Regions from separate parts of the Homo sapiens genome. Here all the other regions are reported to be linked to region 4. The links are microRNA targets in miRTarBase. Many come from high-throughput screens and were not tested one by one. Region 4 holds a microRNA gene; each other region holds the end of a gene's coding sequence.

Region 1 (5,000 bases), not on the chromosome of region 4:
CTGGTTTGCACCCAGTGGCCCTCACCTCTCTTCCCAGCATCCTCTGGGGTTGCCTGCGATGGTTCTACTCCTTCCTCTGGAGCATTCGCTTCCTAAGGACAAACCCTGGGCATCGGTCACCCCTTCATGCACAGGTCGGTGACCGAGTACCTCCATGTGCCTGGCCTGTGGCTGGCTGTTCACTAGTGAACCATACTGTCAGGCCCATTTATTCCCGCCAAGAAGGTGCTCAGGAGATGTTTGCCGGACACATAGGTGCTTCCCGCAGACGGAGTCATCCTAACCCGTTACTCCCAAGCATCTCAAGTGCTCCAGGTAACACTTACACCTAACCTAAAGGAAGGCACTGCGATCAGGGGGAATTTCAGGCCTGGCCTGGGCTGAGATGAGGGATGCCACTTGCAGACAGCCCTGGCCCGCAGCCCTAATTTTGTCCTCAATGGACACCTGCTGTAGCAGCCCTCTGGGCATAGTGCCGCTCACAACTTCCGGTCATTAATCCTTATTCTCTCTCTTCCCCACCCCACCCTCCTCCACCCTGCAGGCAGCAAAAGAGACCTTGGCCAAAGCTGTGCTGGCGGAGCTGCCCCAACAAGTTGTGCAGTATTTCAAGCATAAAAACCTGCCCCCCACCAACTCGGAGCCCGCCTGAGCTCCAGTGCCCAGCAGCAGCATGTCAGCTGAGCCTCCTGCCCTCCCCCAGGAACATGCACGCTCACTCTGCTTCCTTGTGGGTGGCCTTTTTTTACCGATCCCCTTTTTTATTTTTTACAACCGGACCTCCACCCCCAACTTCCTCCAGCCCAGCTGGGCTTCCTTTGTTGGAGTCAACTGTTGATGCTTCCAGGCCAAACTGGCTTCCTCTCCTCCTCTCCCCACCTTTGCCATTCTTAAGTATTGAATGTACTTTGTATAATTTTAGTGGAATTGTTATTGAGAATAAAATTTTTACAATCATAACTGGCTTTTTCCAAGTAACTAGCTGCAGACTCTGATGAAAGAAACATGTCCTTGGTGCATACGTGTCGTAGCCTGCACCTAATTAATTCCTGCTGTTTTTTTAATACTGTGACTGTGTTCTATTTGTTATATGCTCAGGGTAACAAATGAGTTTCAGACGTCCCTGCGTCAGCTCCTTCCTCAGCAGGGACCTGACGGGCTCACTGATCTAAGAAAGGAAATGGAAAATGAAAATCCACCCCACAAGTCTAATAAGTTGGTGTAGTCACTTCTGCATGGGGACATGCATTCCAGATGATAACCTGTTAAATCACTGCCAGTTAACAGTGATAACCTGTTAAACTGGCACAGAACCTGGCACATTGTACAAACTCAATAAATATTCATGGATGAATAGAATGAATGTGCAGGCCCATACCAGTTTCTGACATATCCCTACCCCACAACTGGACAGCAGTCCCAGCCACCCATCTGCTCCTCCTTGGGTCTCCCGGGTGTTTGGGTTGGCCACCTAGAGGTCTGTGAAAGCCTCTCTGGCCTCAGGACCCAAAATGGGGCTGCTTCTGACCCTGCTGTTTCTTCCACATCCCCCTCTCTAGGCTCAGGCCCAGTTTTATGAAACCAGCCAGAGGACCCCTCTCTGAAAGTTCAGCCCCGCTCCCAGGTCCCTCCTTTATTCCACATAACACCTCTTTCTCCTTTATCCACCTGACTCCCGCTTGGACCTCCAGGTAAGCCCCCTGGACACGGGCTTCCGTGTAACCAGTAACAGCTAACCCTCCTATTAAGCACTTTGTTTCCAGCTCCGTGTTCAGTATTTTGCAGGCACTTTTTCTGAGACAGGGTCTCACTCTGTCCCACCCAGGCTGGAGTGCAGTGGTGTGATCTCGGCTCACTGCAGCCTCAACCTTGTGGGCTCAAGCAGTCCTCCCACCTCAGCCTCACGAGTAGCTGGAACACAGGCATGCACCCCCACGCCCAGCTAATTTTTGTAGACATGGAGTTTCGCCATGTTGCCCAGGCTGCAAGCACTATCTTGGTGAACCCTTCCAATAGCTCCTGACGGTGACCATTTCAGAGATGAGGAGACAAGCAGAGAAGCGAATCAAGTCTACTAGAGGCAGAGCCAGGCCTCATACCCAAGTCTGGCTACCTCATGGCCCACACTTGCTCCACTGCATTGAATGCCTTCCCTTGGCTCTGGATGGGGTTCTTCTGCTCAAGCTGCTAATGAATTTGTCACTCTGTGCCACTGAAATTGGAAAGTCATTTGTCCCCATCTACTCTTCTGGCCAGTAATTCTTACTAGGGCCTGCTAGGATTGGGCACCGCAGCAGGTAGATTCCCACCTCTTAGTGCCTGGTAAGCTCCAGCCAGAGTTTTTCTGGTGGGAGCAAGTAAGGGATACCTTCATCCTAAGCTTCTGGTGCCGCTGCTGATTCTGTGGACACCAAGAGTCAGCTGAAGGATCTGTTAGGGACACTTCTCTCAAGAGGGCCGCAGGACTGCACAGAGCTCTGATTTGCAGACTGTCCTTTGGAAAACTCCAGTGCACTGGCCCCCAGGCCAGCAACATGGGTGGAATCCCACTCCTCCCTTACACCTTCCCGTGGGAGCGGCTTACGAGCTTGGTGAAACTAGGGAGACTGCCGTCCACTGGGCCACGTGAAGGCGAAGCCCTGGCCTTGCAGTGGGGGTCTGTCCCACATGCTCCCACTCTCAGATCACTTCCTCAGGTGTGGTGGCCGTGGTCCCCACATCCAGGCTTCATGTGGGGGCAGATCCAGCCATCTCTGCTGTCTGCCCCTTCTCTGCCTAACGGTGGGTAAGTCAAGCAGGCCCTTTATTCCTAGCTGGCTTCAGTTCACAAACTTGTCTAAACTCTTGTCTAAAGAGTTTGTCTAAACTCTTGACAAGGCCAACCAAATCACTTTTTATTTTCTTATTTTTGAGACAGAGTCTCACTCTGTCACCCAGGCTGGAGTGCAGTGGCACAATCTCAGCTCACTTAGCCTCCGCCTCCTGGGTTCAAGTGATTCTCCTGCCTCAGCCTCCCAAGTAGTTGGAACTACAGGCGCACGCCACCTTGCCTGACTAATTTTTGTATTTTTAGTAGAGATGGAATTTCACCATGTTGGTCAGGCTGTTCTCGAACTCCTGACCTCAAGTGATCCACCTGCCTCGGCCTCCCAAAGTGCTAGGATTACAGACATGAGTCACGGCGCCTGGCTCCAAATCACTTTTGTAAAAATCCAAGCTTTGGTGCTGCTACTTGGTTCCTGCACATGGATAGCAGGCTGAAAAGTGAACTTGGAAATCCAGCCAGAAAGACTCCTTTACCCTTGAATCCCTTCCACGGAGGCCTGGGCACTGGCATTTGTTTAGAAGTTTCACTGAAACCACAGAAAGCCAGACTTAAAGGCTCAAATGAAAATTCTGGTTCAAATGAAAATTCTGGTTCTGTCACTTAGCTATGCAACCTCAGACAAGCCATTGAGCTCCTAGGAATTCTGATTTCCTGTAAAATATAGAGAAGGGCTGCTTCACAGGACTTTTTTCCCCCAGAATGAAAGACACTAGAGTCCACAAAAATAACGCACAAATGCCCCTAACACCCTGGCATATACATAGCAAGCTCTCAGTATACACTGAATGAAAGAAACCAACACAAGCAATGATGTACATGACTATTACTAAAATAGTAATGGAAGACCAGCTTGCAGTATAAAGCACAGGTGAATGGCTGTCCCTCTGTTTTTCTGCCTCTCCCCTCTGCAAAGCTCTGATGCTGGGGCCATGTTCTGCCGTTACCACTGTGAGGCTCCCTCTCTCTCCGAACCGCTGCTCCAGCAGGTAAGGGAGCAAAATGTCAGCCCTTGCCAGTGTCACTAAAGCACAAATGTGTGACTGGTTTCTGTGTTCAACCTGTGACTACAAAAGTGTTGCCAAGATCCTAGCCTCCCACTGAGCAGAACTTGCATTCCATCCTGTGACGCCTAAGTGGGTTGGGCATGCCAGAAAACCAAGAAAATACCCAAGTCCAGATAATCTGCACTGCCATGGAGCTGTTTTTCTGGAGGGGCCTAAGATGACAGCTGAGCCATATACCCACGGCTAGGACAACCGCGCCAAGGAACCGGGTGTGCCTAAGCAATTAACATTTAGCCAAAAGGGAAGCATACAGCAAAAGCTGGTGGTTGGAGCTTTGACGACCAGATCTGACCCTTCACCCATGCCAGTGTTCTAGCTGCAACTGAGGAATGCCAGTGGAATGGATAAACCTGCATAAATCACCAATAATGGAAGCTCTGGCTATGCCACCCAGAAAAAAGGGAGGGCTGATGGTAACAGCACTGAGGGTGGCCACCATTTACTAAACACTGTGTGTCTGATACCGCACACCTAGCACCTAATCTAGGTTATCTCTATCTCCCTAGGAAATTGGTAGTGTTATTCCTATTTACCAAGGAGGAAAGTGAGGTCCAGAGAGGTCACACTAACCTTGCCCAAGTGACACAGCTAGTCACAGCTGGCTCCTAACTCATAACCACTATGGTGGAACTAGGCTGAGTTCCCAGGGAGGAGCAGCAGAAACAGTGGGGAAGGGCTTAGGCAAATGAAGCTCCTCTCTTGGGTGGGAAGGAGGAAGCCAGACAGGAAGAACTCAGGAGCTAGAGTGAAAGAAATGAGGATGCCTGGCACTAAGTCACCCGACTTAGGGCCTCCTGACTCCCAGTCCAGAATGATTCTGAAAAAAGCTGAAGCCCCCCTCCGCCCCACCCCTCTGGATTTGGGGAGCCAGCTCTCAGTCTCTTGCATCCTTAGATTCAGGGAAGATATACACAAGTAGGTAGCCAGCCACCTTTTTCGGTCTAGTCGTATCAGTTTCCCTGGTTTTTACAGATGGAAAAATAGACGCTTTGAATATCACACTCATTTTCCACCCAGGTGGGTGACACAAGCTAGATAATCCTCCCCATATAGAGGTGGCAGTAGGATTCCTATTAGCTTTCTCCCTCACATGGCTGGAGAATTGTAAG
Region 2 (5,113 bases), not on the chromosome of region 4:
AGCCTTCAGTCATTTTGGTAACTTAAAAGTCCATGAAAGGATTCACACTGGAGAGAAGCCATATGAATGTAAGGAATGCAGGAAAGCATTCTCTTGGCTCACTTGCCTTCTGCGACATGAAAGAATTCACACTGGAAAGAAATCTTATGAATGTCAACAATGTGGTAAAGCCTTCACTCGTTCTCGTTTCCTTCGAGGACATGAAAAAACTCACACTGGAGAGAAGATGCATGAATGTAAGGAATGTGGGAAGGCACTGAGTTCTCTCAGTTCCTTGCATAGACATAAAAGGACTCACTGGAGAGATACTCTATAAATGTGGAAAAGCATTCATTAATTTTATTTCATTTCAGAAACGTGAAAGAAATCACATAGGAGATAAGCCTCATGAATGCAAACACATGGTAAAGCCTTAAGATGTTTCTTTTGAATATGGTTATCCCCTAACCATATGCAGGGGATTGGTTCCAGACCCCCTAAGCATACCTAAATCCACAGATGCTGTGTTCCTTTTATAAAAGGACATTTGCATGTAACCTATCCACATCCTCCTGCATCCCATAAATCATGCCTAGATTACTTAATTTTTCACCAACCCAAAGCTTTTGTAAAAGTAAAAATAAAAAGTAGGTTACTAAAATACCTCATGTGTTGTAAAAGCTATGTAAACAGTCATTTTATTGTATTTTTTTTAGAGAATCGTGATATGAAAATAATCCTGTGCTGTTGAGAACAGACCCAACCATCACAGGCCTGCCTACATAGTACATGTCACCTAGAATGTTACAGTTTCTTTTTTTCTTTTTTTTTTTTTTAAGACAGAGTTTCACTCTTATTGCCCAGGCTGGAGGGCAATGGCACAATCTCAGCTCACTGCATCCTCTGCCTCCCGGGTTCAAGCAATTCTCCTGTCTTAGCCTCCTGAGTAGCTGGGATTACAGATGCATGCCACCACACCCAGCTAATTTTTTTTTTTTTTTTTTTTTTTTTGTATTTTTAGTAGAGACGGGGTTTCATCATATTGGTCAGGCTGGTCTCGAACTCCTGACCTCAGATGATCTGCCTGCCTTGGTCTCCCAAAGTGCTGGGATTACAGGCATGAGCCTGTAATCTACAGTTTCTTTTTTTTCAACAATCATAGATTGCTTTTATTTAATGACCTGGAATCGTGTGTTAACACTTATGAAAATCCTGATCCTTCTTGCTTGATAACCCAAGGATGATGATGATGATCATGATCATGATGATGCTGATTACAGTATGGTGCCTAATATGATTCACTGAGGTGACTAGATGGGTGGCACTGTAGATAAACAGTGAGACATCAGGCTCACTTGAATCTTGACAGGATGTCAGGATGATCATCTGTGTTGGATGAACCAGGTTCTGATTGCAGATGCTGAGTTTGGAAGAGACTAAATAATACTAATGTCAGAATCTGTTCAGCATGAGGGCTGAAGATGTGTACACACTGAAGGATCTGTCTTCATATTTGCAGATATTTAGTTAGAAACATTGTTGTAGGAAGCTGGTTCTTTTTCTTTAAATATCCTTGCAGTGTTTGTTGGCATGTTATCCCTTGGGTGACACAGAGGTTTTGTTCCATTGAAGGATCTTACTTGAGGATGGCAATCTTTATTTTATTTTTATTTTTATTTATTTATTTATCATTTGAGACTGAGTTTCGTTCTTATTGCCCAGTCTGGAGTGCAGTGGCGCGATCTCGACTCACTGCAACCTCCACCTCCCAGATTCAAGCGATTCTCCTGCCTCAGCCTCCAGAGTAGCTGGGATTACAGGCACTCGCCACCATGCCTGGCTAATTTTTATTTTTAGTAGAGATGGGGTTTCACCATGTTGGTCAGGCTGGTCTCGAACTCCTGACCTCAGGTGATCCACCTGCCTCGGCCTCCCAAAGTGCTGAGATTACAGGCATGAGCCACCGTGCCCTGCGAGGATTGTAATCTTTAATACTTTTCACCTTGCAGAGGCTGTAGATGCCCCAAAAACTGCTGCACATGTTTCAAGTGTCACATCTTTGATATTACCTCTTCTAAGTCTTCTGCATCATCATTATCATCATTATCTGCAGAGAATTTCAGTATATCTTCGAGTTCCTTGTTAGTATTTATGCTCTCTTATTTGTGTTGGGATAGAAAGATTAAGGAAAGGAGAGATGAGAAGGTGGCTCAACAGTTGAGACAGTTTTATTGGGAGTAAACCTGAGAAGGGCTTCCAGCGGCAGGGTCAGGTGCAAACTTCTCTTACAGCCTGAGGCTTTTTTAAAGGGCCCAGTGGAGAAGTGTGCTTTGAAACAAAATTCTGTTAGGGAGGGGTTGGGGAAGTCCTGGCTGTTCTGTTACAGTTAGGGCCGTTATTCTCTGTTGAAGTTATGGGCGGGGCTGACATTTTCAGTTTTGGCCAGGTGGCCAAATAGAAACTTAAAGCTTAGGATGGTGGAGTGTTATAAAGATGGCGGTGCTCTTGTCCTGTCAATGTGTTCCTCAATAAAGTCTTCAAGCATGTCATAGATTGTTTTCCCCACCAACCTCCCTTGCAGCATTTGAGATATTCCTGATACTTCATCAATAGTGGAGAAGCTCCTGAAATCATTGACTTCCTCACTCCATAATGGTTTCCAACACCCAATGAAGTAGTAGGAGGAAAACATGGGTTTCTTCTCCTGGAAGCCTCCAGAAGAAGGTATTTCAATATGGGGAGAGTGGTCAGCTGTGTCACAGGTCACTGAGAATTTGAATAAGACAAGGAAAAAGGGTTGACTGTAGATTTTGGCAAGTATTTGGTCACTGGGGGCCTTGATAAGAGCTGTTTCATTGAAGTATTCATGAGAATAACTTGTAGTGAAATATATCTCAAATAGACCTCCACGATGTTGCCTAGAGGGCAGTGTTACCCTTTGAACTACCAACATTAACCACTGGAACTGCTCATCTGGAAGCCTCTTACAGTGCTGGTACAAACTAGAATACACAAAGGAAGGGATCATTTTATACGTGTTACTGTGCTACTTGCTCTATCTACTTAGTGTTCCATACATGTAATTACCTATTCCATCCTATCCCAAAGTACTGAAAATCTCCATTCTACTTTCTCTGTCTGTGAATTTGACTATTCATAGAGAGAGAGATATGTGGAAGTATGCATGTGTCCTTCCATGTCTGGCTTATTTCACTTAGAACGTTTTCAAGGTTTATCCATGTGGTAGCATGTATCAGGAACTCATTGTTTTTGTGTCTGAATAAATTTCCACTGTATGGTTAAAGCATACTTTGTTTATCCATTTTTATGTTGATAAACATGGGTTGTTTCCACAGTAATAATTTGACTGCTATCAATAAGGCTGCTGTGGATGTGGTATGTCTATGTCTGTGTGAGTCCCTGCTTTCAATTCTTTTGGATATATGTATCCCTAGGAGTGTAATTGCTGGTTCACAGAATAATTGGTGTAAACCTTTTTCAGGAACAGGTATATTGCTTTACAAAGTGGCTACAATGTTTTACATTCTCTCCAGCAATGCATAAGGGTTTCTATTTTCCACATTGTCACATATACTGGTTGTCGTATTTTTTTCATAATAGCCAATTAATGGTTCTGTACTGCTTTTTCATTGTGGTTTTGATTTGCATTTCCCTAATGACCAATAATAATGCACATTGGTTTTTGTTTTTGTTGGTTGTTTATATATTTTTTGAACCAGTTTGTTTTAAAATCCTTTGCTCATTAAAATTGAGTCATTTGTGTTTTGTTGTTGAGTTATAGGAATTCTTATTTAAAATTTTTAGTTTTTAATATTTAGAAAATTTCTTTCTTTTTTCAGCTCCCAAGTGCTTGGAAGAGAGTTGTAGGAATTCTTTATACACTGTGGGTATTAAGCCCTTATTTGATATGTGATATGCAGATGTGTTCTCCCTTTCTGTAGGTTTTCTTTTCATCTTGAGATTGTCCTTTGGTGCGCAAAAGTTTTTAATTTCGATGTAGTCCAGTTTATCTTTTATTGGTTGTCTGTGCCTTAAATGTCGTATCCAATAAATCACTGCCAAATTTAACAAAATTTTCCCCTATGTTTTCTGCTAAGTAATTTTTTTTTCTCCCTCTGTCACCCAGGCTGGAGTGCAGAGGCATGATCTTGACTTACTGCAACCTCCACCTCAGGTTCAAGTGATTCTCATGCCTCAGCCTCCCAAGTAGTCAAGTAGCTGGGATTATAGGCACCCACCACCACGCCTGTCTAAATTTTGTATTTTTAGTAGGGACAGAGTTTAACCATGTTGGCCAGGCTGGTCTCCAATTCCTGACCTCAAGTGATCTGCTCGGCCTCCCAAAGTGCTGGGATTACAGCCATGAGCCACTGTACCCAGGCTCTTCTAAGTATTTTATAGTTTTAGCTTTTAAGTATAGGTCTTTGATTAAATATAAGTTACTATTTATACATGATGTAATGTGATGGTTCACTTTTATTATTTGCATGTAGATATCCAGTTTTCCCAACACCATTTTTTGAAAGATTGTCCTTCTACCAAAGAACGGTCTTGGCACTGTTGTCAAAAATCATTTCACCCTGTATATGAGCATTTATTTCTAGGCTGTCTACTCTATTCCATTGGCCTATCTGTTTGTCTTTATGCCAGTACCATACTGTTTTGATCACTGTAGCTTTGTAGTAAGTTTTGAAATAAGGCAGTGTGAATTCTTCAACATTGTTCTTTTTCAAGATTGTTTTGGTATTAGAGATCCCTAGAGATTTGAAGTGAATTTTAGAATAGGCTTTTCTATTTCTGTATAAGAAGCTGTTAGGATTTCTATAGGGATCACATTGATTCTGTAGATTGATTTTGGTAGTATTTTAATCTTAGCAATAGTAAGTCTTGGAATCCATGAACATGGGATATCTTTCCATTCATTTATCTTCCTTAATTTGCTTCAAGAATGTTTTGTAGTTTTCAATGTACACATCACTGATTTCTTGGTTTCATTTATTTTTAAGTGTTTTACTTTTTTTGATGCTTTTATAACTAAAATTATTTTCTTAATTTTCTTTTTGGATTGTTTATTCATTGTTAGTCTATTGTTTATTCATTGTTAGCAGCTGAT
Region 3 (5,118 bases), not on the chromosome of region 4:
GATCCCACCAGGACATCACCGAAGACAGCTTTTCCCTCTTCTGGTTGCTGGAGCCCCGGATAGGTACTGGGGAAGGGGAGGGAGAACAGAGGTGTTCTGGGCCCCAGAAGGCGACCCCCACTGCAGCCTCTCAACAGAACTGTAGACTAGCCACACCCACCCTTCCCTAGAGATCGTGGTGGTGGGGACTGGAGACCGGACCGAGAGGCTGCAGTCCCAGGTGCTTCAAGCCATGAGGCAGCGGGGCATTGCTGTGGAAGTGCAGGACACGGTGAGTCCCGGGACTGGGGCATGCTGCGGGGAGCACAGGCCTGGCGCTAGACAGGCTGATGCTGGCCTTTTCTTTGCAGCCCAATGCCTGTGCCACCTTCAACTTCCTGTGTCATGAAGGCCGAGTAACTGGAGCTGCTCTCATCCCTCCACCAGGAGGGACTTCACTTACATCTTTGGGCCAAGCTGCTCAATGAACCGCCAGGAACTGACCTGCTGACTGCACTCTGCCAGGCTTCCCAATGCTTTCACTCTTATCTACCCTTTGGCACTTATCTTGCTTATCAACATAATAATTTATACACTTCTCCCATTTTGTATCAGGTGTGTTGCTGGCCAGGAGCTGATGGCTCACTGGGCTCTTGGAGGGGAATGTGAAGAAACCAAGGAGTCACTTTTTCATCTAGATTACTTAGGATTCCTTGACTTTTCAGAAGTCGGGAAGCAGTATGTTTGCCTGTTGTAGACCTACTTGCTCACATGCAGATTTGAGAGGACCTCAACGGCTTTTCTCACAAAATCGCTGATTGTTTTTCTTTTTTTGAGATGGAGTCTCGCTGTCGCCCGGGCTGCAGTGCAGTGGCGTGATCTTGGCCCACTACAACCTCCACCTCCTGGATTCAAGCGATTCTCGTGCCTCAGCCTCCTGAGTAGCTGGAATTAGAGGCCCCTACCACTACACTGGGCTTTTTTTTTTTTTTTTTTTTCTGGAGATGAGTCTTGCTCTTTCGCCAGGGTGGAGTGCAGTGGCGCAGTCTCAGCTCACTGCAACCTCCGCCTCCTGGGTTTCAGTGATTCTCCTGCCTCAGCCTCCTGAGTAGCTGGGACTAGAGGTATGCATCACCACGCCCAGCTAATTTTTGTATTTTTAGTAGAGAAAGGGTTCACCATGTTGGCCAGGATGGTCTCGAACTCCTGATCTCAAGTGATCCACCTGCCTCCCAAAGTGCTGGGATTACAGACGTGAGCCAATGTGCCTGGCCGAGAGAGATTCAAGTTAGGGAATATATATGTGTGTTGACCTGGTCCTATATGGCCAAGCTATGGGCTAGCAGGATGCCCTGTGTATGCCAGTCCCAGGGCTTGTTCTTTGACCCCTTGGGAGCCAGAGTCAGATGCTCAGTGTGAGACTGAAACCCCAAGAGCCATAGCTATAGCTATAGTCAGCTGTTTTGTGAGCAGCCTCAGGAGGAACTTTTTGGACCTGGAACTACCCGCTTCCAGGTCCATGGAGCACATTTATCTCGGGGCCTGAGGCTCCCCCTGGAAATGAGGGTGCTGTTTTTGTGTGCATCTGTGGTAGTGGCAGCTACAGAGCCCCACCTGTCTGTTGAAAGATCAGGCATCACTTTTTTCTTTCTAAACTTTTATTGAAAAAAAAACCGAGGAGGTGTGCTGGATCCCTTTTCAGAAAAGCCGCTTCTCATACCTGCAGGCAGAAGGACCACCTGTGAGGTGAGGGCAGGAGAAAGGAGGCATGAGGTATGGCAGAGGCCCCACCAAGGACAGGGTGACTTACGAATGGAGGCTATGGACGCCACCTTCCACCTGGGCTGAGGACGTTCTCTTCTCAAACTTAAGCTCCCCAGAGTACATCATGGCTCTGAAGAAGGGCAGAGGTCAAATGTGGGTAGCTGGCCCTGGACCAGCCCCTCTACCCATGTCCCAGCTCCCCAAGCTCACCGGACTTGGGTCAAGCTCTTGGCACCAATGTCCTGGCATGAGTGTTGGATGCCAGCAATCAGGTAAGGGACAAATTTGTGGATTGACCCTTTGTCCTGCACAGCACCAGACACTCCCTGGGCCACTTTGATTTTGTCAGCTTCACTGCAGGGAGAGGCAGAGACACGGGCAAGGTCACAGCAGAGATGAGACTGTCAGTGCAGGATTAGGGTGGGGTAACTGGCTTGCCTGTCCCACCTGAAATATCTGTTCTGGCTGCTGAGGTGCTTGTCCATGGCATCGAGAGAACCCATACCGCGATATTTCTTTAGCCGGATCCCATCGGAAAAGAAGTATTCACCAGGGGCCTCAGTGGTGGCAGCCAGGAGAGAGCCCATCATGACTGCGGACAGATGGAGTGCTTGGGTTAGAGCCTAAGCAGCACTAGGGAGGGGGTCCCACTGGCCTTCACGGGTACTGGGCCTCACCTGTGGAGGCCCCAAGGGCCAAGGCTTTCGCAATATGACCCACATTTTGGATTCCTCCATCAGCAATGACCGGAACACCAAAGCGCCGTGCATACTCTGACACCTTGTACACTGCTGTTGCTTGGGGCCGCCCACAGGCCAGCACTGTTGAGATGGAGGAACACATGGGTGGATAGGGTTAATGGGGACGGGCAGTGGACCCTGTGGCCATATTTAGGACCCAGGAGCTTTTGGCTACATCTGCATCAGGACTGCAGCTTGGCTGAGGAACAGACGTGTCTGGGATGGCTGCTGCCACATCTGCCTTAAATAGTACAAACAGCTGTGCTGACCTCTACTCACCCCCACATGTGCACGTGCATGTGTGCAGTGCCCAGGGCAGCCTCAGGCACATGCAGTCTTAGCAGCCGGGAAAGCCCCCGTCCAGCTGGTATCAGATGGGGCAGGAGTCACCGTGCAGTTAGTCCCCAGAGGCACTGAGGTCAGGCCCAGCCCTTCCTCCCTGAATGGTGGGCAGCTCAGGCAAGATAAGGGCAGTGGTTGTGTAGGAGAGCAGGCTGTGGTTGTGTGGAGCAGGCAGTGGTTGTGTGGGAGAGCAAGGACCACACAAAGGAGTTGGTCCCTGAACTATGCCTACTGCAGAAGATGTGGGCAGAAAAGGTCCTGCCTAGGGAAGAAGGTCCTGCCCTATCAGCACCCCAGAAGGAAGAGGGAGCTATGTTCTTGAGCACCACCCCCAAACCATGGTCTGTGTATCAGTTGGCCTTGCCCACCCATCAGCACCACAAACCCCGGGAGCTACAGCTACGTCAACCAAGCAGCCGGGCAGTGGGCAGCTGGGCCGGGCCAGTGGGCCGGGCTGGACTTACTATAGCAACCCGTGACAGTAGAAGGGCATTTGGGGCTGTGGGACTTTATGTCTGGAGGGATCTTGGGAGCCACTAAATAAAACAAACAGACCAGAGTTTAGAGAAGGTGCAGAGCAGGAGCAAGAAGGCCAGGCTAGGCAAGGGAGTGGCAGGTGATGGATGACAAGACCTTGTCTTGCTTCCAGCCATGTCACCCATCCAAGAGGCCAATTTGGCCCCAGGGTTGCCCCTATTGGAGGGCTCTATTGTCCCCATAAGAGTGCTTGGTTCCAAGGTATGTGGGGCCTGAAACTGGGGTCTCTGTGGGCCCTATCAAAGTATATTCTTACCTTCCTGCGTAATGCAGATGGAGCCACTTCCCATGCCCACCCGCAGGGCATCCACACCTGCATCAATGAGGTTCTTGGCCTGGGCAGCAGTGACCACTATGGTGAAGGAAAGGAAAATGCTCATGTGAAGGTTAAGGTGGGAGCCCAGCTTACCCACTCCCACCACACATCCTTCAGGGCACAATCTTGCCTTACCATTGCCTCCAATGACTTGGAGATTAGGGTATTTGTCTTTGATGTACTTGATCATATTGATCTGGAAGATGGAATTTCCCTGGGAAGAGTCCTAGGACAAGAAGTAAGTCTCAGACTGTGATGTGGCAGCTGCCCCTATTGCCCCAACCCACCTGTGTAGCAGCTCACCAAAACCACTACATCCACACCAGCCTGGGCGAGCAAGTCCAGCCTATACTTGTCATCCTCATGAGTGCCAATGGCTGCCCCACACAGCAGCTGTTTCTTGGCATCTTTGGAGGCTAGTGGGTAGTCCCGATTCTTCTTCAGGTCTGTCCGGGCAATGATGGCCACAAGCTCATCATCTTCATTTACAATGGGCAACTTTCCTGTGGTCAGGGCAGGACATGAATCAGGACCCTAGGCATTAGTTCCAGGCCCTTTCCCAGCTCTAGGACTTACCCTTCTTGCTGCGCTGCAGAATTTCATTTGCCTCCTTCAGTGTGATGCCTGCAGGGGCTACCACCAAGTCTTCCCTCTTTGTCATTATCTACGTGGGAGGTGAGATGTGAAGAAGGGCCAGTCATCGACTATGACCAGTTAACTCTTTTCTTTCCTTCCCAAGTAGCTGAGCTCAGAGGCACGCGCCACCACACCCAACTAATTTTTTGTATTTTTAGTAGAGACGGGGTTTCACCATGTTGGCCAGGCTGGTCTCAAACTCCTAACCTCATGATTTGCCTGCCTCAGTCTCCCAAAGTACTGAGATTACAGGGGTGAAGTTCTATGGACCACCACGTTCATACATTCACACCCAAAACACCCTTCCTCAAGGGATCCCAATAATTCTTAGCAGTATGGTATTGAGTGAGGGATGAGTAGAAAGGACAACATGGCACAGGGAGCACCCTCTTACACTATGGAATAAGGAGGACAACACAGGAACAATGGCAAGAAAATCAGGGCAGACCTCAAGCACTGCCCCTACCTTAGGGGTTTAAAAGAACAAAGCATGAATACTAGCAAGCATTTGGGCAGTTTGAAAGCCTCTGGTGGGGAAAGGATGCAGGAACCCAATAAAGGAGTCAGAAACTTGGTTTGACACTCCTTTCCCAGAGAGAAGAGGCTATCAGAGATGTCTTAGACAACAGAAGCCCCTTGTCTTCAACCTGGGCTGCTAGAGCTTGGATCTACTCTGCCAGTGGCACCCACCTCTTCCAAGAAACAGTCATGTTCCTCCTCTTTGAGAAAATCAATGTCCCTGGAGGAGATGATGCCCACCAAGCGGCTCCCCATCCGGCCTGTGTCTGTGATTGGGATACCGCA
Region 4 (5,128 bases):
GGGGGCTTTGGCTACCTGTTGTCACGGAGTCTCCTGCTTCGTCTGCGGCCACATCTGGATGGCTGCCGAGGAGACATTCTCAGTGCCCGTCCTGACGAGTGGCTTGGACGCTGCCTCATTGACTCTCTGGGCGTCGGCTGTGTCTCACAGCACCAGGTGACAGCTCTTTCAAGTCAGTCCCAGTCCCTGATAAGCTAGTGGGGGATGAGTGATTGGCCTTCCTCCCAGCAGCACCTTAGAGGCCATTGTTCCCCCTTCCTGGCCACTGGCCGCTCTGTGGGCCCTCCGTTGCTCACCTTTGGCAATCTGAGAACCTGGGGCTATCAAAAGTAGTATCTTGTTAGGAACCCCTAAGCAAGACCAAAGGGTGCTCCTACTCAGCAGTCCTTCTCCCCTGCCCCCCTGCCCTCCACACCTCCCCCGACATCCACACTTCAGTTATGGCAGTGTGGGCATGTCTTAGAGATGGCTAGTCTCCAGAGAAGTGAGGTGATCACTTTTCCAGCCCAGAGAGCTGCCCTGTTTCTTGTGCTGGAGAAGAGTGGAAGAACCCAGAGGTGGCTCATCCTCTCAAACCAAAGTATTGGGAGGATTTTCTGGCTTGTGTCATTCATTCCCTTGAAGAACAATGGGAATCTTTGGGGGAAGAAAGTATCATTATTATTATTTTTAATATGTTATTTCTGTGATGGCTCCTTGCAGAGCAGGGCTAGCCTGTAAGCAATGCACTGAGAGTAGCCGAGAGTGTCCTTAGTTGCCTACTTGCTTTCTACTTTCCAAAATGTGGGCAGTGAAAGAACTGGGGTTAAGCGAGGTGCTGGAAAGGGTGCCTCTTCTGTCCTCTGTTCTAACGCAGCAGTGCTAACAGATGTGAACACTGAGTATGGTTAAGGGCGGTTTGGGACTGGCAGCTCTTGTGTGTGTCATTGATTGGTCTGATTGTCCCTCTAGGGGCAGCAGTATCGCTCATTTGAACTGGCCAAAAATAGGGACCCTGAGAAGGAAGGGAGCTCGGCTTTCCTGAGTGCCTTCGCCGTGCACCCTGTCTCCGAAGGTACCCTCATGTACCGGCTCCACAAACGCTTCAGCGCTCTGGAGTTGGAGCGGGCTTACAGTGAAATAGAACAACTGCAGGTGAGCTGAAGAGGAGCAGGTGGGCAGAGGACCGCAGTCAGAGGGTCAGAGAGAGCCTGAGATGTCCAGGCGTGCAATGAACGAGCAGCTGGCAGTGGGGCTGGGCTAGGCCCTGTATAATGGCAGGGCAGGAAGAGGCCGACCATACTTAAATTTAAAGCAACTACAGGGACAAAGGTCTTTGGGGGTCCAAAGCAATCATAAGGTAAGCTCCCAGCACAACTTGAATGCAGCTAAAGGGGTTTGCAAGTAGACTCTGAGGATCAGGAAGCTCCGCACAGTGTTCAGACAGAATAGTTTTAGCTCCTCCTCAATAGTGCCTGTCCACTGAGGAGGCAAAAACTCTGAAGTTTCTTTACTTCTAGAACTGTCCCAAGAAAGCCCAAGGGTAGAAGGGAGAATTCTCAAGTTGAACGTCAGGCTTGGCAGAGGTGGAGTGTAGATGAAAACAAAGGTGTGATTATGAAGAGGATGTGAGTCCTTTGGGTGTAGGAGAGAAAGGCTGTTGAGCTTCTATTTCAAGATACTTTTACCTGTGCAAAAAGCACATTTTCCACCTCCTTCTCATGGCATTTGTGTAAGGTGAGTATGATTCCTATTCCATCTGCATTTTAGAGGTGAAGAATAACGTACAAGGGATTCAGTGATTAGCAAGGGACCCCTCACTAAGTGTTGATGGAGTTAGGACAGAGCTCAGCTGTTTGAATCTCAGAGCCCAGGCAGCTGGAGCTGGGTAGGATCCTGGAGCTGGCACTAATGTGAGGTGCATTCCCTCCAACCCAGGCTCAGATCCGGAACCTGACCGTGCTGACCCCCGAAGGGGAGGCAGGGCTGAGCTGGCCCGTTGGGCTCCCTGCTCCTTTCACACCACACTCTCGCTTTGAGGTGCTGGGCTGGGACTACTTCACAGAGCAGCACACCTTCTCCTGTGCAGATGGGGCTCCCAAGTGCCCACTACAGGGGGCTAGCAGGGCGGACGTGGGTGATGCGTTGGAGACTGCCCTGGAGCAGCTCAATCGGCGCTATCAGCCCCGCCTGCGCTTCCAGAAGCAGCGACTGCTCAACGGCTATCGGCGCTTCGACCCAGCACGGGGCATGGAGTACACCCTGGACCTGCTGTTGGAATGTGTGACACAGCGTGGGCACCGGCGGGCCCTGGCTCGCAGGGTCAGCCTGCTGCGGCCACTGAGCCGGGTGGAAATCCTACCTATGCCCTATGTCACTGAGGCCACCCGAGTGCAGCTGGTGCTGCCACTCCTGGTGGCTGAAGCTGCTGCAGCCCCGGCTTTCCTCGAGGCCTTTGCAGCCAATGTCCTGGAGCCACGAGAACATGCATTGCTCACCCTGTTGCTGGTCTACGGGCCACGAGAAGGTGGCCGTGGAGCTCCAGACCCATTTCTTGGGGTGAAGGCTGCAGCAGCGGAGTTAGAGCGACGGTACCCTGGGACGAGGCTGGCCTGGCTCGCTGTGCGAGCAGAGGCCCCTTCCCAGGTGCGACTCATGGACGTGGTCTCGAAGAAGCACCCTGTGGACACTCTCTTCTTCCTTACCACCGTGTGGACAAGGCCTGGGCCCGAAGTCCTCAACCGCTGTCGCATGAATGCCATCTCTGGCTGGCAGGCCTTCTTTCCAGTCCATTTCCAGGAGTTCAATCCTGCCCTGTCACCACAGAGATCACCCCCAGGGCCCCCGGGGGCTGGCCCTGACCCCCCCTCCCCTCCTGGTGCTGACCCCTCCCGGGGGGCTCCTATAGGGGGGAGATTTGACCGGCAGGCTTCTGCGGAGGGCTGCTTCTACAACGCTGACTACCTGGCGGCCCGAGCCCGGCTGGCAGGTGAACTGGCAGGCCAGGAAGAGGAGGAAGCCCTGGAGGGGCTGGAGGTGATGGATGTTTTCCTCCGGTTCTCAGGGCTCCACCTCTTTCGGGCCGTAGAGCCAGGGCTGGTGCAGAAGTTCTCCCTGCGAGACTGCAGCCCACGGCTCAGTGAAGAACTCTACCACCGCTGCCGCCTCAGCAACCTGGAGGGGCTAGGGGGCCGTGCCCAGCTGGCTATGGCTCTCTTTGAGCAGGAGCAGGCCAATAGCACTTAGCCCGCCTGGGGGCCCTAACCTCATTACCTTTCCTTTGTCTGCCTCAGCCCCAGGAAGGGCAAGGCAAGATGGTGGACAGATAGAGAATTGTTGCTGTATTTTTTAAATATGAAAATGTTATTAAACATGTCTTCTGCCAAACTGTTTTTAGGTCTAGGGAAAATTGAGTAAGGAGAAGAATCCAAGGGAAGGGAATGGGGAGTCGTCCCGAGGGACCCACTGCCTCCCCACCTTCTTCCCTTCCCCTTCTCTCCCCCTCCCCTCCCCAGTTTCCAATGACCACACGGCTGCTGTCAGATGAATGACTTTTAATCCAGCCCCACACCCCAAGGTGGCAGAGGAGTGATGCTGGAGCCCGGGGCAAAATGCTGGGGCCCGGGACACGGCTGAAAGTTCCGTCGTGCTGCTTATTTTTGGGCTCCTAGGTGTTGCGCACAACCAGCGACTGCTCCAGCTCCTGCCTGCGCTGCTGGATCTTTAGAGGAAGTGAGAACAGGAGCAGGTGTCAGTGTTCTGGTGAGTGATCAGGACAATCCCACCTACTGACACCGCCTGCCCTGAAAGAGCATCTGGGAGCAGGGAGGGCCATTGCATGGTGAGGCAGCGTGGTGAAGCTTTACTGTGGGGAGCTGCGAGGGCTGCCCACAAGCTGAACAGGGAGGTTTCTCTTGGAGTTGAGGATGGGGAAGCCTCAGGGCAAGGGTCCCTGCATACCTTGCAGTAGAAGTAGCGACTGACGGCCTCCTGGGACCAGGGCTGGTGGTAGAACTCAGCCCGGCGCTCCTCTTCAGGGTTGCCGGCTACATCTGTCATCACCTGGGAGGGAGCGTGGGGTGAGCCCTGAGCCCTGAATCCCCTCACCTGCCCCTGGAGTACAACGTTTACTCTCTTTCCCGCTGTGCTTGTCTTCCACTCCAGTACTCCCTGAGTCTCCCTCTTCACCTTGAGGTCCCGGCTCTGGGAGCGGAGCAGGTCTTGGACATAGCCTTTGGGGTCTCTGGAGAAGCTTAGCATGAAGTCCCTCTGGATCTTGAGCTGGTTTATGGACTCAATCGTCTCATGGATCTGCAGGTAGAAAGATAGATGCTTTCCACCTGGCTTTGGTGATGTGGGAGACGAGGGGAAAGGAAGCGGGTGGGAAGGGGAGGGAGAGGGGGTTTCTTCTGTGAAGGACAACCCCTCAGAGCCCCTGATTTCTCTGAAGTCCCAGGGGAGGAGGGGATGGGCAGAACTAAACTTGGAATGAGGTTCAGCTCCAAGCAGCATGGACGGGCCATGTGTGTCCCATTGGCCCAGAGTCTGGTCTCTTTTTTTTTTTTTTTTTTAATTTAACCCAGACTGCTCATCTGCAACCACACCCTGGTCTCAGAAAAGTCTCCTCTATCATCTCTGGGTTAATGTCCCACTCCAGCTCTGGGCTTGGGCCCCACCTTACTGTCCAGAGCACTGATCTCCTGCTGGTTGGCCGTGGATAGGAGGAAGCTGCTCATCTGCCCCTTTAATGGCTCCTCCACCTCCACGTCAATGTCATAGCACGCCGTCTTCTTCTGGTCTGAAGGGTCCACGCTGCCAGGGAAGTCCAGCCCTTCGTGTCCACGATGCCCCCATACGGCCCCAGGGCCCCGGGGCTGGGGCAGATCCAACAGGGAGGGAGAAGAGATGGGAGTGGGAGGAGAGGGAGGGGCAGGGAAGGCAGGAACGAGATCATTCCCTGGTCTGAGAAGCAAGCTGGGGCCACCTCACCTGATGACATGGTTGATGACAATTGGGTCAGGGGGCAATAGCAGGGCTGTGAGGCGCTGGGGAATCTCAGAAAACTTCAGCCGGGGACAATCAAAAATCTGAAGCAGGACAATTGGGGAGAGAGAGATCACTCTTCTTGAAGAGATCATCATGCAGTTGT
Region 5 (5,128 bases), not on the chromosome of region 4:
ATTGTAGGTATTCTCTGAATATTCATTAAATGAATAATCATGTATTTTTCTAATTAAACATTTTTAAGAGTAAAATTGAGTTTTGCTTGCTTGTTTGTTTTTTATCAACAGTTTTTATTGGCACAAGGGACTCCTGGGTCTGAGTAATGCAACAGTGGAATGGCATATTCCAGACACTGCCCAGCCTGGAATCTACAGAATAAGATATTTTGGACACAATCGGAAGCAGGACATTCTGAAGCCTGCTGTCATACTTTCATTTGAAGGCACTTCCCCGGCTTTTGAAGTTGTAACTATTTAGTGAAAAGTTGATAGATCATTTAAAGAACAGCTTTACTCTCTACACATTATATAAGTGATTTCAAATGAATGTGAACTAGTGAACTACCATGTTGACTTCTATAATCGTCCCTGTTTGGGGACAGATAGTTTACTGCTAATGGGGTGGAGGGGTGTGTGTGTGTGTGTGTGTGTGTGTGTGTGTGTGTGTGTGTGTGAGAGAGAGAGAGAGAGAGAGAGAGAGAGAGAGAGGTTTGTCCCATATATCTTGCTCCAGCAGCCATATATCTTGTGGTCTACAGCCTAAAGCATGATTTCCCTTGAAGTCTTGGGGTTGTTTAAAGGAGAGTCCCTTCAATATAAAACCTCTGAAATATTAGTGAGAATGGCTCACTAATGTGAACAATGTTTAAATTATTTATTTATATATAGAATTACTGAATATTAGTACTGGGAAAATTTATAGAAATCATCTAGTCTTACCCTTCATCTTACATATAAGAAAAATGGTCTTTTCTTCTAATCACATTTACAAAATATGATATAAACCTTGACCATGAATGTATGAGCCTAATTAGAGAAACAGAAAATCAGCATGTCAGTTTTCCTTCATTCAAAATAACATAGTCTTTCTAAGCAGTCATTCTGGAGTTAACATGCCTAGTTCAGAGCCGCTGTGGATGCTCAAATCATTTCTGGAATTGCCTTCAGGACACAATTATGAGAAAGTCAGACTTCCAATATTTTGATCATGCCTTGTGTTTTCCTAAGTGTCCTTATCCCACTGGATTGTGTCTCTTACTCCCAAGACTTATTCCAAATGATTTTTTGACTCTTTTCATTAATCAAATTCACCCCAAACCAGAAAGTTTTGCCATTAGTGTAGATATTAAAAATATTACTGGCTGGGAAAGCACTCCTCAAAGCAGAGGTTCTAAATTAATTTATCTGTTCTTTTACCATTTGCTCACTCACTCACTCATGGACCCATTCAATCATAGAATATTTAAGATTTATATGCCCAGAATTATAATAGTGCCTAGGCCTTGATAATTAGTGAATTTGTACTTGGGGTGAATGTGTAAGTGTCAAAAGGTAACTATTATGAAGGAGAAAATAATCGATTTAATATGTAAATTCTGGGGAAGCATTTAAAAAATCAGTAATCTTCAAGTTATATCTTGTGTATCATCTGTGTTGGATACTCTAATTTGGGGGGAAAGAGGCTCCAGACAGTTTGCTAAATACTATTTTGAAAGTTATTTTTGGGCATTGTAAAATACCTTGCTTCATACCCCAAAGAATAAGATATGACAGTCTGACATCGATTGTCTGAAAGTACTAATTGCATTTAAAATTCTTTAAGTTAACTACAACCTCCCAGACTGCAAAGCAAATTTCCAAACCCCAGGTCATACTTTTGTATGTATGTAAAAGCTTTAGCATTTTAGGGAAAAAAATCAATCTGTATTTTAAAAATAAACTTTGAGGTTTGAAAATAATAACAATATTCATAATGGTAGTATTAACATCTATTATGTATAACTTAATCTCAACATAATTTATTGAATTAGAATGAACCTGGAACACTTTTTGATGAATTGGTATCCTAGAGGCTGTTTCCTTGGGCATTAACTGCTGGAGGATTAGGTAATCAGGGATTCCAAGTGTTGTGATCTTTTTTCTGATGATGCCACAGTCTTCAGTGTAAAAGTTCAGAAGCCTAAAAGAACAAGTGATCCTGAAAGTAGCTGATTCCAGACAAGAAAATTATATTAGAACTTATGATATGGTTTTTTAAAGTATTTGTTATTACTCAGAAGGGTTCATGAATCAGTTTCCACTACCTCTATTCCTTCTATTGAAGCTTTCCTCAAATCTACTTGTGATTCCTGATAGCTCACTGGCAACTGTACCAAGGTGGCCACTGTATCATCTACTGATCCTACTGCACCTAGCACTCTTGGCTCCAGATAACGCACAGAAACCTATTTTCTCACCAGCTGTCATTTCTTCTAGGGCATGCAGTTCTATGTTCGCAGTTCATGTGTAAAAATAAAACCAAATTCCTGGATTATCAATATCAGTTCTTTACCTGTGCATAAAAGAATATCATGAAGTAATTGAACTTATCTGTTGATATAAAAACACAGATCCAATTCATGTCTGTGGATGCTGCAGGGACTGGCTCACTGGAGCCAAACCATGTGGCAGAAACTCCTGAAATTGGTGGAAAAAGTGGAATATGGCAGATTGGGTAGGTAGGAGAACAATTTTGGAGATTTTGTTTCTCATGTTAAAATGTCTGCATTTTATTTGCTGTACCCTGCCTACTCTGGTTTTAAGGATTTTTTGACTTCTTTGAAAAGCACTGAATAATCTCTTTTCCAGGTCTAGATTTTTTGATGAGTACTGTGTAAAATTGTCAATATTCAATGGATTATTTAATAATAAATTAAGAATTACACTCATAAAAGTATTGTCTAATGAAAGGTAATGTAGACAAACGAACACTTTTTTAAAAAAAGAGGTGGAACAAAAGGTGGTAGATTACATGTAAGTTAGGTTGGAAAGTGATACAAATGACTTGTAAATAACCACTGAAGCACAAGGGAACCACTTCTTTATCAGTTCCTTTCTAACTTCTGAAGATGTACTGCTGGTAAAACACATGTATGGTTGACAATTCTTTTATTTTCTTTCTCTTTTTTACTAGTTGGGCAAAAAAATTTCCTAGGCAGGTAGCTAACTATGAAATTGTTTCATGCGCTAATTCTGAACAAAAAGACCAAGAATGAATTTACTTATGAATGTCCTTTTCTAATGTGCCCTCTTATGCTTCTCCTCCAATGTAAGCAAGCTTACTGTCTTTTTCTAAGATTAGCGCATGGATTCTATCTTTAGCCAAAAGGTTTCATCACTAGATGAACTTCTCATGTGTTTAGTTCTTCCAAATGATGCTCTTGCTTCCTGGGTATCCAACCTGACTTGCTGGTTTATATTGGCTTCCAAAATTTTAGAGTGATAGGGTATCGGAGAGGGAAATTTGCACATTCCTTATGCAATTTGTTAGTATGCATTCAGCTGTAACTCAGAAAATATTCCTGATCAACATCCATCCAAACACTAAAGACATTTATAACCTCACATAGCAGTAAGTCTTGAAGTGATAAATTCAGGTTTGGTGCAGCCACTCAGTGGCTCTTCTTAATATATTGACTTAATTCTTAGGCTTATCCTCTTAGCTAAAAGATCGCTACCTCAAGTCTACATATAATTGAATGCAGCAGCAAAATGGGAGGAGAGAGTTCTCTTTATAATCCCCTTTTAGAAGGTGGAAAATAGTAAGAACACAAGTTGAATTTTCCTTCTATTTCTTTGTTCAGAACTGTGCCACACAGCTACTCTTACCTGCAAGGGAAGCTGGAAAAAAGAATATTTAGTATTTTGTGCTTCTAGAGAGTGAGGCAAGTTCTGATAGTAAGAAAGAAGAGATAGCCGAAGTAGCTGTCATAAAATTATGTTAGTCAAGACAGATTAGTTATGCTACAACATTAGAGATTTATTTCTTGATCTCATGACCTGTCCATTGGGGTTAGCTGAAGGATCTGTTCCACATCTCATTTGAGTTCACAGGCTGACAGAGACTTCCATTCTAAACATTCTTCCATTGTGAGGGAACAGGAACAGGTGCTTCCATGATTAGGGGGAAGGGACAGGGAGAATCATGCAATAGTTCGTGAAGCTTCCACATTACTGTGCATTTTTCACTGGGCAGGTGACAGAACCAGGATATTTGCAAGCAGCCCTAAAGGTTACCACAGTGGGCAAGCAATAATATCTGCATATCCAAATTAACTGCTCTTTGAAATAATTAGAACTCGTTTTACTCTAGAAAATATATTTTGGAAAAGAACACACATTGGAATAATGACGAAAAAAATTGCTTTCTGTATTGCAAAATGTATACGTTACTTTAACAGATTTATATCAAGCACCTATATACTTTATGGCAGAAATTATGCTAAATCCTAAGAATGAAACAATAATGAAGGCAAAGCTATTCCCTGCCAAAAGGAACTTAGCGTTTAACGAACAAAGCAAACAGATGAACAGGTAATTACTGTACAGAGTGACCCATATTGTTATTGTTCAGGGAATTAGAGAGGGCACCTAATATGGTCTTGGGGATGTTTCAGTAAGTTTCCTGGAAGAAATAACATATAAGCTAAGACTTAAAAGACATGTAGAAATTAGCTAGAAGAAAGGCAATGGTGTGTGCATGTATGTGTGTATTAGTGTGTGTTTGTGTTTGTGTACTGGGCAAATAGACTATTCCATGTAGAGGGAATATTGAGTACTTTATCAAGACTATAGTTAGAGTATAAGGAAAGAGTTGACAGTGAGGCAGCACCAAACTTTACCTTCATAAATAGCAATTTGGTTTTATACTTGTATTAGCATTTTTCCCCCTTGAGACTCTTCCCCTATAACATCAATGTCCTTGAATGTATTTGCCATTTGCTCTAATAATAAAATACACTTTCTATAACCAAAAACTTACCTTGACTCCCAGTTTCCAGTACCACTTAGTGTCATCCTTCTGTCTTCAGGGCTATAAACCTGTCCATAGACAAACCCATGGAATTGAATTTATTAAGAGACTTCTTTTGCTTATGTCAATTTCATATTTCCAAATCTATGATTTCTTTTGTTTTTTGTTTGTTTGTTTGTTGTACCTGCTAAAATGGCAAGTATAACCAATGAAGACCATTCTCTCCCTTTAGATAGGGTTCAGAGTTCCAGCCTTACGAGTTCATAAATACTTGTGAATACTAAAAATTTGAGC

What was found. Region 4 holds the annotated microRNA hsa-miR-671-5p (AGGAAGCCCUGGAGGGGCUGGAG, at 2,993-3,015, shown strand). A microRNA usually pairs through its seed, bases 2 to 8, with sites in the 3' UTR of a target mRNA and lowers its output. Matches are read on the target gene's strand: a 7mer-m8 pairs with bases 2 to 8, a 7mer-A1 pairs with bases 2 to 7 and ends in A, and an 8mer does both.
Region 1: the mRNA of CPNE2 is a reported target of hsa-miR-671-5p. Seed matches in the 3' UTR shown: 7mer-m8 at 811-817, 7mer-A1 at 840-846 and 7mer-m8 at 856-862.
Region 2: miRTarBase lists ZNF442 as a target of hsa-miR-671-5p. Seed matches in the 3' UTR shown: 8mer at 2,231-2,238.
Region 3: the mRNA of NDUFAF3 is a reported target of hsa-miR-671-5p. Seed matches in the 3' UTR shown: 7mer-m8 at 504-510.
Region 5: the mRNA of ASAH2 is a reported target of hsa-miR-671-5p. The part of its 3' UTR that is shown has no 7-base or 8-base seed match.

Annotation. Positions count from the first base shown.
Region 1 is chr16:57,147,007-57,152,006 of GRCh38, forward strand. CPNE2 (copine 2) reads left to right here. Exons shown (of 16, transcript NM_152727.6): 16 at 545-1,363. The coding sequence ends at 652. Among named protein-coding and RNA genes, the nearest start is that of PSME3IP1, 37 kb to the right of the region's middle. RefSeq lists a silencer at 691-985 and an enhancer at 2,927-3,716.
Region 2 is chr19:12,344,904-12,350,016 of GRCh38, reverse strand. ZNF442 (zinc finger protein 442) reads left to right here. Exons shown (of 6, transcript NM_030824.3): 6 at 1-4,073. The coding sequence ends at 316. It also overlaps a transcript of ZNF563 not described here. Among named protein-coding and RNA genes, the nearest start is that of ZNF563, 14 kb to the right of the region's middle.
Region 3 is chr3:49,022,706-49,027,823 of GRCh38, forward strand. NDUFAF3 (NADH:ubiquinone oxidoreductase complex assembly factor 3) reads left to right here. Exons shown (of 5, transcript NM_199069.2): 3 at 1-63; 4 at 171-271; 5 at 351-790. The coding sequence ends at 467. IMPDH2 (inosine monophosphate dehydrogenase 2) reads right to left here. Exons shown (of 14, transcript NM_000884.3): 5 at 5,005-5,118; 6 at 4,255-4,342; 7 at 3,982-4,181; 8 at 3,814-3,904; 9 at 3,619-3,714; 10 at 2,421-2,564; 11 at 2,191-2,335; 12 at 1,954-2,097; 13 at 1,790-1,873; 14 at 1,620-1,699. The coding sequence ends at 1,678. Among named protein-coding and RNA genes, the nearest start is that of NDUFAF3, 3.1 kb to the left of the region's middle. RefSeq lists a silencer at 2,563-2,702.
Region 4 is chr7:151,235,457-151,240,584 of GRCh38, forward strand. It overlaps MIR671 (microRNA 671), which reads left to right and starts at 2,965; the gene lies at 2,965-3,082. CHPF2 (chondroitin polymerizing factor 2) reads left to right here. Exons shown (of 4, transcript NM_019015.3): 2 at 1-156; 3 at 952-1,134; 4 at 1,918-3,366. The coding sequence ends at 3,225. SMARCD3 (SWI/SNF related BAF chromatin remodeling complex subunit D3) reads right to left here. Exons shown (of 13, transcript NM_001003801.2): 9 at 4,969-5,066; 10 at 4,656-4,791; 11 at 4,168-4,290; 12 at 3,940-4,041; 13 at 3,324-3,700. The coding sequence ends at 3,647. It overlaps LOC124901779 (a long non-coding RNA gene), which reads left to right and starts at 4,205. Exons shown (of 2, transcript XR_007060596.1): 1 at 4,205-4,296; 2 at 4,563-5,128. RefSeq lists enhancers at 1-395, 4,095-5,128.
Region 5 is chr10:50,182,488-50,187,615 of GRCh38, reverse strand. ASAH2 (N-acylsphingosine amidohydrolase 2) reads left to right here. Exons shown (of 21, transcript NM_019893.4): 21 at 112-2,755. The coding sequence ends at 301. Among named protein-coding and RNA genes, the nearest start is that of ASAH2, 66 kb to the left of the region's middle.